Regions from separate parts of the Homo sapiens genome. Here region 1 is linked to region 2. The links come from fine-mapping of genetic effects on gene expression. A gene starts in region 2. The other region holds a variant in brackets. All regions are shown on one strand. Distances are between the middles of the regions.

Region 1 (8,318 bases), 53 kb after region 2:
GTTCCCAGCCTGCCCGCCCACTGCTCTCACCCACAGGGAGAGCCCAGGTACCTGCTCAGGGCCAGCGAGTCCAAGCCGGCTCCCACCCCTGGAGGGCTCCCACCCCCGGAGGGCTCCCACTTCTGGAGGGCTCCCACTTCTGGAGGGCTCGCCGGCTGCTTCTGTTTCAATACCTGCGGTGGCCCCTCACGCTGTGTCCCTTGGATCGCGAGCTCCCAGCAGAGGTACCGGAGGCCCCCACAAGCCCCGGCCTGCTCCTCTGACATCCTCCCATCCTCCCTCCCACCTTCTGCGGCAGTGCCCAGGAAGTGGGGTGCCACACCCTTGGCTGGTATCCCCTGGCTCAGGAAGCCCCCTGAGGGCAGGTAGAAGTGGGAGCCTCAGCCTCTCCAGGAAAGATGTCACAGAGGGGCTCCCTCTCCCTCCTGGCCTGAGGCCCCACTGGCCACCCAGCCCACAAGAGAGTCCACTCTCAGGAGGGAGAGATTGAGGCCCAGAGAGGGCAGGACCCTATCCCGGAGAAACCACCAGCAGGGGCGGCTGAGCTGGGGCGGGTTCGGCTGCCCCCAGCACCTGACTCGTCCCAGACCTGCGGCCCCGGGCCCCCACGAGAGACCCAGAGGGTGAGGGGACAGCCTGCCTGCCCCAGCTGCCCTCCTGGCCCCAGGGCGCCCCACTGCAGCCCACTGCCCAGCTCCTCAACGCCCCCAGGAGCTCCACCCGGTGGGCCCCTAGCCGCCGGCACCCGCTGTCACACAGAGGCCACCTCCTGCTACTTCCCTGCTACCCTGACTTCCGTCTCCAGGCTGAACGTGGGTCCCAGGTATGGAGACCCCCGGCCAAGACGTCCTGGGCATAGGAGGCAGACCAGGCCCCATGCCAGTGAGCCTATGGCTGGGCCTCTGCCACTCTGCCAGGGGCCACTGGCTGCCCACAGTCCTCCCCACTCTCCCAGCCCAAGGCCCCTCTGTGAGGCCCTGCTCCCACCCCTGGACTTAGCGGATGCAGGGAACACAGACCTAAGGCCCCGGAGAAGCCACAGGCCCCAGCAAGCTCAGCCGCTGCCCCCAAGCTGGTGGGGTTGCTGGAGCCCGCCTGGCTACGCCCACCTGCTGGCCTGGCCGCACAGGGAGACAAAGAACCCAGCAGCCCCGACCCCACAACCGTGTCAGGAAGTGCGAGGCTGAGGCCAGGCCCCTCCATGCTCACAGCGGGCAGGAATGCCAGCCTGCACATCTGCGCTCAGGGGCCAGCTTCATGGAGGGAGTGGAGCCCGCCCAGCTCGCCGGCACTCTGGAGACAGAGGGAGGGGTGTTTGACAAGGGAAGGGAAGACCGCGAGGGGCCAGCCCTAGGTCAGCGTGGGAGCACTGGGCCGAGCTCGTGTGTGTAGGCCGGGGACTCCGCCACTCTGACCCGGAGGGAAAGGCCCCCAGGACCCCATGGGGACTCAGGAGGCTGCTCACGGCAGCCCCGAACCAGGGACTTTGGGAGGCCATGGGGTGGGGGACACCCCGGAGCCCCACTCAGTGTTAGAAGCAAGAAGGGGAAGCTTAGTGCCAGGTGGAGAAAGTAAAGATCAGAACGGGGTGCTTGGCCAAACACGGGGCCATAGACACTGCTCCCCAGAGTGTGGCCCACATAACCCTGGGGTCCTCAGAATCTTCCAGGAGCCTGCAAGGTCTAAGCTGTTTTTATGTAAAGGAGGTGTCCCTTCCCCGCGCTGACATCTGCACAGATGGTGAAAGGCTCTGATGGGTGACACCCTGGGCCTCGGCTCAGATACAGTGTCCTTCACCAGTGCGTGCTCAGAATTAAAGCAGAGAAGAGGCCATTTCCCTAAGAAGGTCTTTGTTGAAACAGCACAAATGATGAACTGTACCAAAGCTCAGTTCCGTGCAGGGAGCCAGGGAGAACAGAAAGCTGCCGCAGCAAAGGGCGTTTTCCTGGGAGGAGGCTCTCGAGCGACGGGGACTCCAGCTGAATTAGCCGGGGGACCCACAGTATAGTGGGGAGCAGGACTTTCCTGGAAAGACAGCTGAGACACTGTGGTGCTGCCGGCCGTGTGCTGCATAGGTATTTCCTCAAAAATGCATGAGCCCAGCGCAGTGCCTCACTCCTGTCATCCCAGAACTTTGGGAGGCCAAGGCAGGTGGATTGCTCAACTGAGGAGTTTCAGACCAGCCTGGGCAACATGGTGAAACTCCATCTCTACAAAAAAAAAAAAAACACACCAAAATTAGCCAGGCGCGGTGGTACGTGCCTGTAATCCCGGCTACTTGGGGGTCTGAGGCAGGAGAATCACTTGAGCACAGAAGGCAGAAATTGCAGTCAGCCAAGATCATGCCACTGCACTCCAACCTTGGCAACAGAGGCAGACCCTGTCTAAAGCCTGCCACCTAAAAACCAGCAGAGCAGATCCAGCAACCCCACTCCTGCATATACTCCCAAAGGAAATGAAATCCACGTGTTGAAGAGACCTGCATTTCCATGTCCACTGCCACACTGTTCACAACAGCCGAGTTACAGAATCAGCCTGAGTGTCCATCAGTGGATGAGTGGATACAGAAAATGTGTGTGGGGGGGTGTATGTGTGTGTATATGTGTGTATGTATATGTGTATCTGTGCATGTGTATATATGTGTGTGTATATGTGTGTATGTATGTGTGTGTTACATATGTGTGTGTAAATATGTGTGTGTGTGCATGCGCCCAAGCAACGAAATACTATTCAGCTTTTTTTTTTTTTTTTTTTGAGACGGAGTGTCACACTCTATCGCCTAGGCTGGAGTGCGGTGGCGCGATCTCCGCTCACTGCAGCCTCCGCCTCCTGGGTTCAAGTGATTCTCCTGCCTCAGCCTCCTGAGTAGCTGGGATTACAGGTGGCCGCCACCACGCACGTCTAATTTTGTGTTTTTTGTTTTTTGTTTTTTTGAGACGGAGTCTTGCTCTGTTGCCCAGGATGGAGTGCAGTGGAGCAATCTCAGCTCACTGCAACCTTCGCCTCCCGGGTCCACACCATTCTCCTGCCTCAGCCTCCCGAGTAACTGGGACTACAGGCGCCCGCCACCATGCCCAGCTAATTTTTTTATTTTTAGTAGAGACAGGGTTTCACTGTGTTAGCCAGGATGGTCTCGATCTCCTGACCTCGTGATCCGCCCGCCTTGGCCTCCCAAAGTGCTGGGATTACAGGCATGAGCCACCGCGCCCGGCCTAATTTTGTGTATTTTTAGTAGAGATGGGGTTTTGCCATGTTGGCCAGGCTGGTCTCAAACTCCTGATCTCAAGTGATCTGCCTGCCCCAGCCTCCCAAAGTGCTGGGATTATAGCTGTGAGCCACCGCACCTGGCCTCAGCCTTTAAAAAGGAAGAAATTCTGTCATTTTCAACAACATGGATGGAACTGGAGAACATCAAGTTAAGTGATATAAGCCAAACCACAGGAGACAAATACCACATCTTCTCACTTATATGTAGAATCTAAAACACCTGAGCTCATAGAAGCAGGGTAGAAAGCTGGTCCCTAGAGGCCAGGGTTTGGGGAATGGGGAGATGATGGCCAAAGGGTGCCAGGCCTCAGTTAGACAGGAAGGGTATGTTTTGTGGTTTGGGGGAATTTTTTAGTTCTGTTGTGCAGCATGGTGAATATAATTAATAATAGAGTTTCGTGCATTTCAAAACTGCTAAGAGTACATGTCAAATGTTCTCACCACAAAAGATGGTAAATATCTGAGGTGATGGTTATGTTAATTAGCTTGATTTAAACTGAAATGATTGTATTTAAAAATCATAACATCACTATCTACCTCATAAATATATACAACTATAATCTGTCAAATATATACTTTTAAAAATGAAATTTAAAAATAAACAGGCCGGGCACAGAGGCTCATGCTGGGAGGCCAGGGTGGGAGCACCACTTGAAGACAGGGTTTGAGGCTGAAATCACCCCTGTAAACTTTATAAAATTATTCAGAGAAGAAGGGAGGGGGAGAAGGGAAAATGAACTAAGCTGGTGGTGCAGGCAGCGTCACGACGAGGTGGGCTGGCTCTCTGACCTCTCCTCATAACTGTTGCTGCCTACTGCCCCAGAATCACACAGACCCCGTCCCAAGATCATAGTTCCCCTAACTACC[A/G]TAGAGAGAACAACTTAAACATTGTAAAAGGTTGATTTCCATCTGAGATGCTCTTTCAGGTCCTGCATAACAGTAAAATTACTGATGCCAGCTGGTGGGAAGGACCTCACAGGAGCTGACTCACCAGCAAATGCATTTTCCACCTCCTGATTTCATCCCCCTTACCCCAACAAGTCAGTGACCCCAGCTTCTCCAGCCCCTCACCCTCCATAATCTCCTTAAGAACCCCAGCCCAGAACTCCAGGGGAGGTGGATTTGAGGGTCTCCTCCCATCTCCTTGCTTGGCACCTGCAATCATTAAGCTTTCTCTGCTGCAAACCCTGCTGTCTCCGTGTATCGGTTGGTTACTGTGCAGAGGGCACACCAACCTGGTGGCCTTGTAACAAGAACAGCAGGGACAACAGAGCAAGATCCCATCTCTTTAAAAAAAATAGCTGGGTGTGGGGGGATGTGCCTGTGGTCCCAGCTACTCAGGAAGCTGAGGCAGGAGGATTGCTTCAGCCCAGGAGTTCGAGGTTACGGTGAACTGTGATGGTGCCACTGCATTCCAGCGTGGGGGACAGAGCAAGACCTTGTCTCTAAAACAAACAAACAACAAACAAACAAACAAACAAAAAAACTAAATAAAACCCTCTCCAAAACAACACAAAACAGCAAATTGCAGGATCTGTTGCCAATAATAAAATTCAGGCTTAGGTAAAAATCAGCATTTTGGAAAACTTGTATTCATCACTGTGAGTCTATCAGCTTCCAAATATTTAAAGGCTTTTATCGTGAGATCGGGGTGATAGTAATGTGATTTTGGGATAATATTTAATAAAACGTGTCAAGATTTGAAAAATCTGCATAACTCAGTAAACCAATATTTTTCAAATTATTAATACCAAAACATGGTCTTCCAAAATTATGCACAGGTAAATTTCCACTCAAAGTGAAAAACAGGGCCAGGTACAGCGGCTCATGCCTGTAATCCCAACACATTAGGAGGCTAAGGTGGGAGGATCACTTGAGGCCAGGAGTTTGAGGCCACAGTGAGCTATGATGGTACCACTGCACTCCAGCCTGGGCAACAGAGCAAGACCCTTTCTCAAAACATAACAAAAACAAAAAACAAAGTAAAAACAGACCAACAGATGATAATGTAACACAACAGATGATAATGTAACAATACAAAAAGTCCATTGGCACGGTTTCAGATTCTGTTATCGCAACAACCTGTAAGAAACTCTACCATTCATCCAGTCCGGGTGTACCATCAGAGAAGAGTGTCCATGATTACCTGAAAAGGCGGCTCAGCCCTGTGAGGCCAGATCTCTTCACTGATTTCAACCAAAACACACTGCGACAGATGCAACGCAGATGCAGACAAACATTCAAGAGACTGCAAAACTGCAAAGCCACGTCCCTCTTCTCACTGGATTTTTTTGTTTTGAAAGTATTTTTCATAAAATGTTAACGTGTTATTTCTATTAACATGTCATTAGTTTATGGGTTTTTGTTTGTTTGTTTGTTTTTTGAGGTGGAGTCTTGCACTGTCCTCCAGGCTGGAGTGCACTGGCGCGATCTCGGCTCACTGCAACTTCCACCTCCTGGGTTCAAGCGATTCTCCTGCCTCAGCCTCCCGAGTAGCTAAGATTACAGGCACCTGCCACCATGCCCGGCTAATTTTTGTATTTTTAGTAGAGACATGGTTTCCATGTTGGCCAGGATGGTCTCAAACTCCTGGCCTCAGGTGATCCTCCTCCTTCAGCCTCCCAAAGTGCTGGGATTACAGGCGTGAGCCACTGCGCCTGGCCTTTTCTTCTTTTTTTGAGATAAAGTCTTGCTCCGTCGCCTGGGCTGGAGTGTAGTGGCGTGATCTTGGCTCACTGCAGCCTCTGCTTCCCAGGTTCAAGCAATTCTCCCGCCTCAGCCTCCTGTGTAGCTGAGATTACAGGCATGCGCCACCACGCCCAGCTAATTTTTGTATTTTTAGTAGAGACGGGGTTTCACCATGTTGGCCAGGCTGGTCTCAAACTCCTGGCCTCAGGTGATCCTCCTGCCTTGACCTCCCAATGTGCTGGGATTACAGGTGTGAACCACTGTGCCTGGCCCGTTGTTATTTTCAATAAGACTTCATGAATATTTTCATATTTTTTTATGAAGGTGGTGTAAACATGTGGTGTAAATATTCCCACTTGAGCCCACAGAGCACAGAGTGGGGAAGAGATGGACAGTATCATACGGCATTTCCACTAGACAGACACACACAGACTGCACCCAGATAACAGCGTGGATCACAGTAAGCTAGAAATAATTAGGAAGCAATACATTTTGAGTATTTATTTCCTTTGCTTTTTATAGTATTTCTGTGTTTTACATAATTTAATTACTTTAATTTGATTTGAATAATGGTTGTGTCCAACAACCAGCTGATGAGATTACTGGAGATGCTACCGTAGGTTCTGGTGAGCACGTGCAAGCCTGCTCCAGCACACACTACAGACAGCACCCCAAAACCAAAGCTCCTTGGGCTTCTCAACAGCTGCTAAGAGTGTTGGGGCCAGATGCAGTGGCTCACGTCTGTAACCCCAGCACTTTGGGAGGCCAAGGAGGGTGGATCATCTGATGTCAGGAGTTCGAGACCAGCCTGGCCAACGTGGTGAAATTCCGTCTCTACTAAAAATACAAAAATTAGCCAGGCGTGGTGGCGCATGCCTGTAATCTCAGCTACTCAGGAGGCTGAGGCAGGAAAATCGATTGAACCCGGGAAGCAGAGGTTGCAGTGAGCCGAGATCGCACCACTGCACTCCAGCCTGGGTGAGACTCTGTCTCAAAAAAAAAAAAAAAAGTGTGAAGGGATACTAAGGCCAAAACATTTGCACCCCACTAATAGTGATTAAAATACTCGCACCAGAACAACACAGCATTCTGGAAAATACAAAAAACGAGATACACACTCAACGCTCCTCAGAAGGAGTCCCAAGGGGGAAGAGATACTGATGTGGGTAAAGGCAATGAATCGATCGATCACTCACTCCACCCTCCAATCGAGAGAGGAGCGACTCCCACAGCCCTCCAGGCCTGAGGCCTGAAGAGGAGATTTTTCAAAATGGGGGTCTCTGGGTCAGAGGTCAGCTTGAAGCCTGCCCTTAAACTCTCCCTCTCTGACTCAGTTTCCTCATCTGTAAAGCGGGGTGCAAAGAGTGTGCCCCAGCCCTGGGGTCCTGAGAAGCTGGACCTGGCAGGCGGACTTGAGGCCCTTCCTGTGGTCCAGCTCCGGGACTCCCCAGCCCTCGGGGCTCTTTCTGCAGCCCCTACCTACCGGGACATAACCGTTCAGCCCCGCATCCCACTGTGGATCCGCAACCCCGCCCCTGCCTGGACCTTCTCCCCTTGCCAGCATCACTGGGCCCCACAGGCCCCCACACCCACCTCTCGAAGGAGGTGGAAGCTTTCAGACCTGCACCTGGGAAGCTTTGTCCTGAAATCACAGGGCAGGGGGCTGAAAGTGGAATCGAGCAGCGGGAGGAAGGACAAGAGGTAGGTGCTGCCTGGATGCCCCCCAGACACTGGCTCCTTTGGGATCCAAGTCTTGGGGAGGAGTTGGGGTCAGCTGAGAGGGATGTGAGGTAGGGGCTGGGGCGGGGGGCCTGTCTGAGTCCTTAACTCAGCACTGATGAGCTCCTGACCAATGACCAGAGATGGCGGGGAGTGGGGAGGCAGGTTACTGTTGCTGTGCCTGCCCCCACCCCCATAGCTGTACCCAGGCTACTGGGGAGGCAGCACAGGAGGGGGTAGTGGGGGGAGCGCACAAAGGGGTTGCCTGGGGGTGGGGGGGGGACTTGGCCTGCTATGCTTGAACTTTGAGTTGGCAAGAGCCGACTACGGGCAGCAGGTGCAGCAGTTCCGAGGCAGAAAGGGCCTGGCTGGCCCCAGCCCAGGGCTGGCTTGAGGGTCCCAGTCCAGCTTCTACGGACAGCTTCAGATTAATCCCCCAAGGATGAATATGGTGGAGCCCACAGGAAGAAGGATGAGCGGCCCCCAAGTCTCCAGAGCCCCATGTCACCACCTCCACCAGAGCCAGCAGCGCCTCCTCAAAGCTGGCCCCCGGGTCTGTGGATGCCAGGGTCAGGCACGGGGATCCCTGCATTGAGCTCCGGGCAAGAAGAGCCAGTGAGGTGGTGGGGTGGTAGATCTGGAGA
Region 2 (8,318 bases):
TCGAGGCTGCGGGGCTGGGGCCTGGGAAGGGGGTGCAGCTTCATTTGGGCACCTGCCCTGAATGCCCAGTCCACTCACCTGGCAGGGCCTGTGCCAGGTGCCCCGACCACTTTCCCCAGAGCTGGCAGAGCAGCCCCCGGCCCAGCTGCAAAGAGGCAGCACCTGGGCACCCACCTGCCTGCCTGCCATAGGCTGTGGGGTGGCTGGTCAGACAGCCCCATCCTCAGCAGCCAGCTACTCTGTGCAGCTTGAGGGCACTGCCAGGGTCCCCTCCAGCTCAGTCAGGGCTGGCAGGCTCCCAGCCACACAAGCACAGCCCCCGTGCAGCCCTGGCTCTGGAGCCCAGGTAGGGCTCCCCCCAGCTCACCCTGAACATCTGCTTCACCCTCTGCCGGGGCAGGTTCACGTTGAGCTTGTGCAGCAGCTGCAGGACCTCGCCAATGCTCAGGCTGCCATCCCCGTTCTTGTCGGCCTCGTCAAACGTCTGCTTCAGCCACTTTGGTGCCGAGTTAGGGGCCAACAGCGATCCATGGGCCCAGCCCTGACACCTCCACCCTCTGGCCTAGGGAGGAAGGAATAGGGGACCCCAGCCTACCGGCCACTTCCCCAGTGTGTGACCCGGCAAAGGACAGGCCCCCCCAGGGTGAGCAGCCAAGGGGCCGGTCCCTGGGTCTGCATTGCCCGATAGGTGCCCAAGGATATTGGTCCCTGGTGCGCTGGCGGCGAGCCAGGCTGTCCTCGTCGCTGATGCCGGCCATGAGGTAGCGCAGGCCAGTGACCCAGGTGCGCGCCACCTCGCTGCTGGTGGAGACCAGGTCCAGCGACTCGCGGTGGCTGCCGTGGTAGATGCTGAAGCAGCAGTTGGGGTCGAAGCTGCCGTCAGGGTAGCGCTGGAAGACCTCCGACTGCCGCCCCTCACTCACCTCCTGGATGGAGTCGATGGAGACTGCGGGGTGGGGAGGGAGCACGGGTCAGGTCCCCGGGGGCCCAGCGTCCCCCTGCTGGCAGCCCCAACACTGCGGAGACCAAGCAGCCGGGAGCTCCTTGCCCACCTTTGCGGGACCCTCGGCAGGGCTCAGGGTCCAGAGTTCAAGAACCAAGGGTGAAGATCTGCGAGACTGCACAGCCCCCCACTGCTGACCCGTGTCCCTCCCCCTTTCCCTTTCCTGTGGAAAAGACACGCCCCCACGAGGGAGAGCATCCACCTCCCTCCACCTGCAGCCCCCAGTGCCCGGCTGGCCCGGGGCTCCACGTTTAACCAGCACGTCTCCACGTTCCAAGGAAGCCCCTGGACACCTCCAGGGCTCCAGCGCCGCAGGTGGGGACAGCGGCTCCAGGGACCCCCAGCTCCGCGCTCAGGTGCATCGAGGCTCTTGTGACCTCAGGTCCCCCTGGGGGCTCCGCAGCGCGACTCTCTCCACGGGCCCAAAGTGGCTACACGCTTGGCAACTGCTGGGCTGAGGCCTTGCCTGGCATGCCTGGGTCCTGACCATCAGCAAAGCCATCAGAAACCCTGGCTGCGCCCTGATCCCAGCCCTTGAGGACTGCCATGTCTCTCCCCAAACCGTGGGACCCTACCCGTTCCCTGTGTGCCTCAACTCTCCCCACCCACCCCCTGCACAGAGCCTCCATCTCGGGTGGCCCCTGCTCCCTCCAGCAGCCATGCCCAGTGGCTGCCTGAGCCACTGTTTGCACCCATACCCATCCATCAGCATACCTCTGTGGGGGTCGTTTCTGTTTATGGGGAGCTGTGACCTCCCCAGCTAGATGGACTATGCTGTGCCCCTCCTTCCAGCCCAGCACTCAGCACAGGGCTGGGCACAGTGCTACTCGGTCCTCACTGAGTCCCAGGGAGCTCTGCCAGGCGGGCAGGGGGCCTGGATCCCTCCTACCCCACAGCCCGAGGTCACTGCAGATCCCCAAGGCCACTGAGCCCAGAGGTGTCCAGGCCTAGGGTCTCGCTGCTCCTCAGCCATCAGTGGCTGCCCTGGGAGGGTCCCTACCGTCGTGTCCCCCCAGGGACTCTGATTTGTCCCCACCCCAGGGCTCCCACTCACTCTTGGCCTTCTCGTTCTTGCGTGAGGGCCTCCAGCGGATGCAGGAGCGGTGCTCGTCCAGGTAGTAGAAGCGGACCAGGCCCTTGGAGCCGCCACGCAGCTTCACCATCTGCATCCCCTCTTGCATGGCACCCATGCACCGCTCCACTGGACACGGGAGAGACACGGCTGTCAGCGGAGGCACAGCCACTCCTCGCAGGAGAGACACGGCCGTCAGCGGAGGCACGGCCACTCCTCACGGGAGAAACACGGCCGTCAGCGGAGGCACGGCCACTCCTCACCTCGCCCGGCCCCGCCCACACCGCCCTGCCAGTGACAGGGCAAAGGCCAGAGCCCAGGGCCACCTCCACCCCAGGTGCCGGCTTGCCTGGGTCACACAGCTCAGCTGGGCCCTGCCACTCCTCCCCAGATGGTCCTGGGAACTGAGGGCCCTGCTCCCCACCCTGCTCGGCCACCTGCCACTCCCACCACCTCCTGGACCAGTCCTAGCAGCCCTGGTAACCGGCGCTGGGCCTGGGGCCCCGAGAGCTACCACTCAGACGGAGCCAGCACAGAACTCAACAATGGGAAGGCCGGGCACGAGGCAAGACAGATGAGGTGGCTGGGCTGGCTGTCTGGGGCCATAGTGCAGTGGAGGCCCCTTGTCAGGGGCGGGGTGGGCCTAGCAGGCAGCAACCCCATGCCCCTGCCCCCGCCCCTGGCCACAGGTGGCTCCTGGGAGCGGTCGAATTCCTGAGTGCCTGTGCCCCTGCCTGGGGCATCTCCAGGAAAGCCCCCACCCCTCATGTGCAACAAGCGCCACGAATGGTGCCATGAATGTCTGCGTCGCACGCCCTGCACTGCAGTATGGACTTGGGAGGCTGTGGTGCCGGATCCGAGCTTCACAACCCCTCCCCTCCCCTCCCCCAGGCTGCCTGCCTCGCTCCTTCTCTCCCCTCCTCTCTCCATTCAGCCTCCTGCTGTAGCTTGTCCCAGGAGAGGGGGCTGCAGGGTCCAGGGAGTCCAGGCCAGAGTCAGCTGTCCCAGCCCAGGAACAGACTGGTCTCACCCCCTCGGTTCCTGCACACCTGCTCACAGAAAGCCCGGGTCCCAGAGGTACCATCTGCTAAAGCACAGAGACGTTAATCCCCACCCCAGGTCTGCACGCTGAGGGACCCTGGCGGGGGCGTTGTAGAGGACCAAGGGCAGTACTGGCCGGGCCTTCTTGGGGAAGCTACTACGTGATCACGAGCAGAGGGGAATTGAAGGGATGGAAGCCATGGCATGGGGGGCTGGGCTCTCCGGGGCACATGGGAGGTGAAGACGCAGGTATGGCTGCAGGGATTTAGGAGAGGGGTGAGGCAGGACACAGGGGCAGGGGGCGGGCAGAGGCCTGCAACAGGGCAGCCTGGACAGGACCCTGTCTGCCGCTGGAACAGAGAGCTGGCAGGCCAGCCCGGACCGGGGCCCTCCACAGGCCACCACAAGACACACACTCCACCCTCCCAGCCATACCCAGCCAGTCTCCTCTGCAGAGTCTCCTAACGGCAAAGGCCCTCATGTCCGGCACCAGGATGCCAGCCCAGCCGCCTGGGCTGCAAGCACCACTGACCCCCAGAGCACAAGGCACCCCTTCAATGAGAGCATTGGAGCCACCTGAGATCCCCCCTCGCCCCCTTGGGTTCAGCCCCCAGGCCCTGCAGGTGCCTGGGAGACCGAGGTGTGCTGAGCACGCCTCTGAGCGGCTGAGGGGCAGGGCCAGCCGACGCTGCTGGACCCACATGATCCCTAGAGCACCCGGGGGACAGGGGAGGCGAGTGCAGGATGGGATGGAGGCCCAGGCTTCCCCCACCTCCAGGAACAGCCCCCACCCACCAGTCACCTGGCCAGGGCCAGCACTCAGCCCAGGCCACTCGCCTGCCCCTTCTTACCCAGGGGGCCGAGCTGCCACTCTGAAGACAGCACCACACTCCCTCCAACCCAGAGGAGTACCTCCGCCAGCCAGGCCACCGTTCCCTTGGTCCGGCTGTCGGGGGAGGGCCATGGACCAGACATGGCCTGACGACAGCCGGGCCTGCTTCACGGAGGCCACAGAGGCCCACCGGCCTTCGGGCAGCGGAGGTCAGGCAGTGGCAGCGCTGGCGACAGGACCTCCGTGGGGCCTTCTCTCCTCTGCCTCTTCCTCCTCCTCCTCAGGGCCCTCCGAAGCCCCCACAGGGCTGTGCCCAGGCCCGGCTGGCATTGGCCTGACCGTCACCTGCTGTCCTGATGGCCCCCAGGCCAGCCTATCCACCCTCCAGGGCCACCAAGGAATCCCTGACGCAGCCGCCTCCCAAGGCTGGGGGAGCAAAGGACCTCAGCCCCGCCCAGCCCCAGGCCCAATCCCTGTGCTAATCCCAGCTCCAGCCCAGCTGGTGGAGGATTTAGGCCGAGGGAACTCCCAGCTGGGGATGGGAGGGCACTGGGGAGGCAACAGAGTTTCCCAAGGCCCCAGGCCACCAGACCCAGGTCAGGGCTGCGGGACAAGAGCAGGACCAACGGGAGGGCCCTCCTGGGACCCAGAGAACGCAACCGGAAGGCCTGCAGGGTACTGTCCTCCGAGGACCCTGTGTGGGGTGGGCCTCCCCGCTGTGCGCCCACCACAGATGCCGAGGCTGGGCCTGGAGTGGTCCCTGCCCTCACCCCGCATCCCTACTTATGAGGACCTCTGAGTGGATCCCCAAAGTCCAGAGGCAGGTGGCCCAGAGCAGGGGCAGAAGCTCACCTCATCCCCGCAGCGCCCAGCCCCTGTGGCTGGAGAGGGGAGCCGAGCCGGATCCCTTACAGCGACAACTCCCAGCCCAGGCCCAGGATGTGGGTCCCTGAGCCTGGGTTGGGCTCTCCATGTCTCCCTCATGCAGCTGCAGCCCCAGCCTGACCTTTCTCCACGGTCACCGAGCTGTGGCGGAGGAGGTGGCCCCATGCCCAGGGCACGTTTGTCCCCACATTCTGCCCTGCAGGGATGACAGCCATCTGACCTGGACAGGGGCCTCGCCCAAGGAGGACCCACCCCACCGTCTCAGCTCCCACTGAGGAAAGGACTCCAGGTCCCACTGCCACCAGGACCACACAGCCCACCCTGTGTACTGGCCCCGCACTACAGGACAGCACAGGCTCTCCCATCCCCAAGTCCAGGCCGGGACACCAGGGGCAGCTGTGGGAATGGGAGGTGGGCAGACCCCGGCTGAACACCAGCCACCTGTGTCCTGGCCATGCCCATGCTTCGTGACCACACTGGGGAGAACCCCGCCCTTCTTCCCACCCACTGCCCAGGCTCTACTGGCTCCAGCAACAAGGACTGGAAGGTTCCGGGCAGCTGCTCGCCTCCCCCCATACCAGGGGAGGAGTTTGGCCTGCAGAGCCCAGGACAGGGAGGTGCCAGGGCTGGGCATCCTGGCAGAGCCCCGGGGCCAAGGTCAGGCGTGGGAGGTGGCAGTCCCTGAGGAGATGGCCATGCGTCTCCAGCTGACCACTGACAACCAGGGCCACACCCAGCCAGATCAGATGCAGTCAGCACAGAGCCAACCCAGGCCCCCACCAGGGGCCCCGTCACAGGCTCTGCTGCTCTCGGCGGAAGCAGGTCAGCAGGCGTTTCTGGGCTCTGCCGTGGAATTAGATTAGGGAGCCATGAGCTGCAGGGAGAGGAGAGGGGCTGGAGTCCCGGGCGTCCTCAGGAAGACAGGGCCTCGGGGAAGGCCACCGTGTAAGGGGCAGCGCAGGGGCCAGGAGGTGGCCTGAGGGCCTGGAGACAGACCAGACGGCCATAGCCCTGGCCCAGGGCCCCTGCCCACCTCATACTGGGCTGCTGCGGGCTTCCACTCTGACCCAGGGGGTCCAGTTCTCCTTCCTGCACCTCAGAGGCCTCCTGGCCTGGGACACACCTGCTGTTCCCTCACCCTGGGCCTGGCCCCAGCTGGGGGTGCTCCCGTCTCTCACCCATCCCTCCTTGAAGCTCCCCAAGGCTGGGCCTCTGCTCCCTCCCTCCCTCCCTTGAGCTCTCAGCCACTAGCTGATCCCCCATCAGCTGGGGTTAGGGCTTGGAGGCCGCCATCTGCCTGGGCAGGGGTTCTGAGAGGAGCCACACATAGAGTGCCTGGCCCCAGCCCCACAACGTGGGTCCCAGGCTCCTGCACCCCAGGCCCCCTGACCTCCTCAGCAGCAGAGCTGGAATCCTCAACTGTCCAGGCGGGTGGAGGCCTGGCTAATCCCTTCCTGACACAGGCCTCTGCCGGGGGCTGCCCTGCCTGCCCTGAGGTCCAAAGGGACCGCCCACTCCCCTCCAAAACTCAGGCAGACACAGAACCGCAGCTGCAGCGTGAAGCCGGGGGTGCCCCGGGCCAAGAGACGTGGCAGGGGCCCAGGCCCAGAGACTTAAGAACCCCTCCCCACGTGCTGCCTGTGAGCCGGCCCAGGGCCCAGCCCAGCCCCCACACAAGGTCACGGAGGGGGCTGCCCCACCCCCATGCCGGCAGGCGAGCCCAGCCCCACAGCCTGCACTGACGGGCCCTCATGCTCACCCTGCCTGCCCTGAGCCAGGGCCCGGCCATCCTGAAAGCCCACAGGGAGGCCGAAGAAGCCACGCTCTGCTCTGTGGTTCCACACAGGGGCCCAGCCCTCAGCCATGGTCCACACCCACCCCCAGGCCGCCTCGGCCCCTCCCGTGAGCCTGAGCCAGGACACCTGATGTGGGAGCTCAGGTGGGATTGTAGCAATGCACCTGGCTGTGGGCCCACACCAGAGGCCAGACTGGGAAGGGCCGGCAGTCCTGGTCGGGCAGATATAGGCTCCGTCGGGGAGAGGAGGGCCCTGGCTCACCTGCTGCTCCCCCAGGTCCCTGCACAGCACAGTGGGGCTCCCCAGTCCTCAGAGCACTGCCTGACCCCGGGACATCCCTGGGGCAGGGACCTCGAAGTCCTCCTCCCTGCTCTGTCCCTGTGAGGCCATGATCCAACACGTAGCAGGCGCTGGCTGGACACAGGTGGACAGGGAGGGACGGGCAGGACAGAGGCAGCTAAGGCCACCAGGCCTGCTCTGAGGAGGTGACGGGAGCCAGTGTCCACACTGGTGTCCAGGGTCCAGCTCTCAAGGGTCTGGCCGGCTTCAGCCCTGGGCCTGGAGAAGCCTCCCACACAGATGCACCCAGATGGGCGGATGGGTGGACAGACGGGCAGACGGGGCTGCACCCCAGTTGGGGAGAGTGCATGGGAGGGCTCTGCGGGCCCCACGGTGACACGCAGAGGAATGCGCCCGTGATCCCCTGGGCTCAGCCCCCGCACCTGGGCTGCACCGGCCCACCCTGACTGCCTGGCCCTGGTGGCTGCTGGGAAGCAGGGGTCCTGGGCCTGCCCCCCGACCTTGGGTTGTCCTCCCTGTCTCAGTGCCTCAGTTTCCCCACTGTGAGAGGTTTGCTCCTGCAGCCCCTTCCTTTCTTCCCAAGGCTGGAACCGGGCGGGTGGCAGCTGATTAGAGGAAGAGCGCGCGCTGTCAGAAGCCAGGGCGGTGTTGGCTTAATTTTGTTTTTATGGCGGAGATCGATCTTGTCCTAACACAGCAGGCAGCATGGGCCTCGCGGCTGTCATCAACAAGGGGCCAGCGGTGGCTCAGCATCTCCGCCTCTCCCCTGGGGAAGGCTGGAAAATAATGAATCTTCCAACAAAACCCACAAATCACACCCACAGGCCTCCCGGCATGTACACACACACCCGGGGCAGCTTTGGGTACCGCAGCCCCTCCCACGACAGGGGCATGGGGACTGCACATGCCCCTCCACCAACCTCTTCCCTTCACGAGCGTGTACGGGACGGGCAGGGGCCCCACCTCTTCCAGGCCTGTCCAGAGGTGGCCCTGGCTGCCTCTAAGCCCCCTCCTCTCCCGACGCTTGCTGCCTTTCAGCAGGACATTTCAAAGGACCTCCCTGGGCCCACCCGTGTCTCCCTCTGAAGCCCCCACAGGGCTGTGCCTGGGCCCGGCTGGCATTGGCCTGACCGTCACCTGCTGTCCCAATGGCCCCCAGGCCAGCCTACCCACCCTCCAGGGCCACCAAGAGTCCCTGAGGCAGCCGCATCCCAGGGCTAGGAGAGCAAAGGACCTCAGCAGCAGTGAGGCATGAGGGCCAGATGCTCCTGCAGCCCTTCCTGGCCCTGGCTCTTCCGCGCCCCCCTGCCCCTCGCAGCCCCAGCATCCCCCTCCCGTGCTGCCCCCAAGGGCCGGCCCAGCATGCAGGAGGGGCTGAGGCTGTGCTTG

The links.
Region 1: its variant is fine-mapped to the expression of PLCH2 in whole blood (TOPMed, PIP above 0.99).

The regions. Positions count from the first base shown.
Region 1 is chr1:2,419,601-2,427,918 of GRCh38, reverse strand. It overlaps a transcript of PLCH2 not described here. Among named protein-coding and RNA genes, the nearest start is that of PEX10, 11 kb to the right of the region's middle. The variant A/G (reference allele first, on the strand shown) is at 4,135.
Region 2 is chr1:2,472,362-2,480,679 of GRCh38, reverse strand. It overlaps PLCH2 (phospholipase C eta 2), which reads right to left and starts at 4,391. Exons shown (of 22, transcript NM_014638.4): 1 at 3,968-4,391; 2 at 2,058-2,204; 3 at 703-946; 4 at 368-497. The coding sequence starts at 4,091.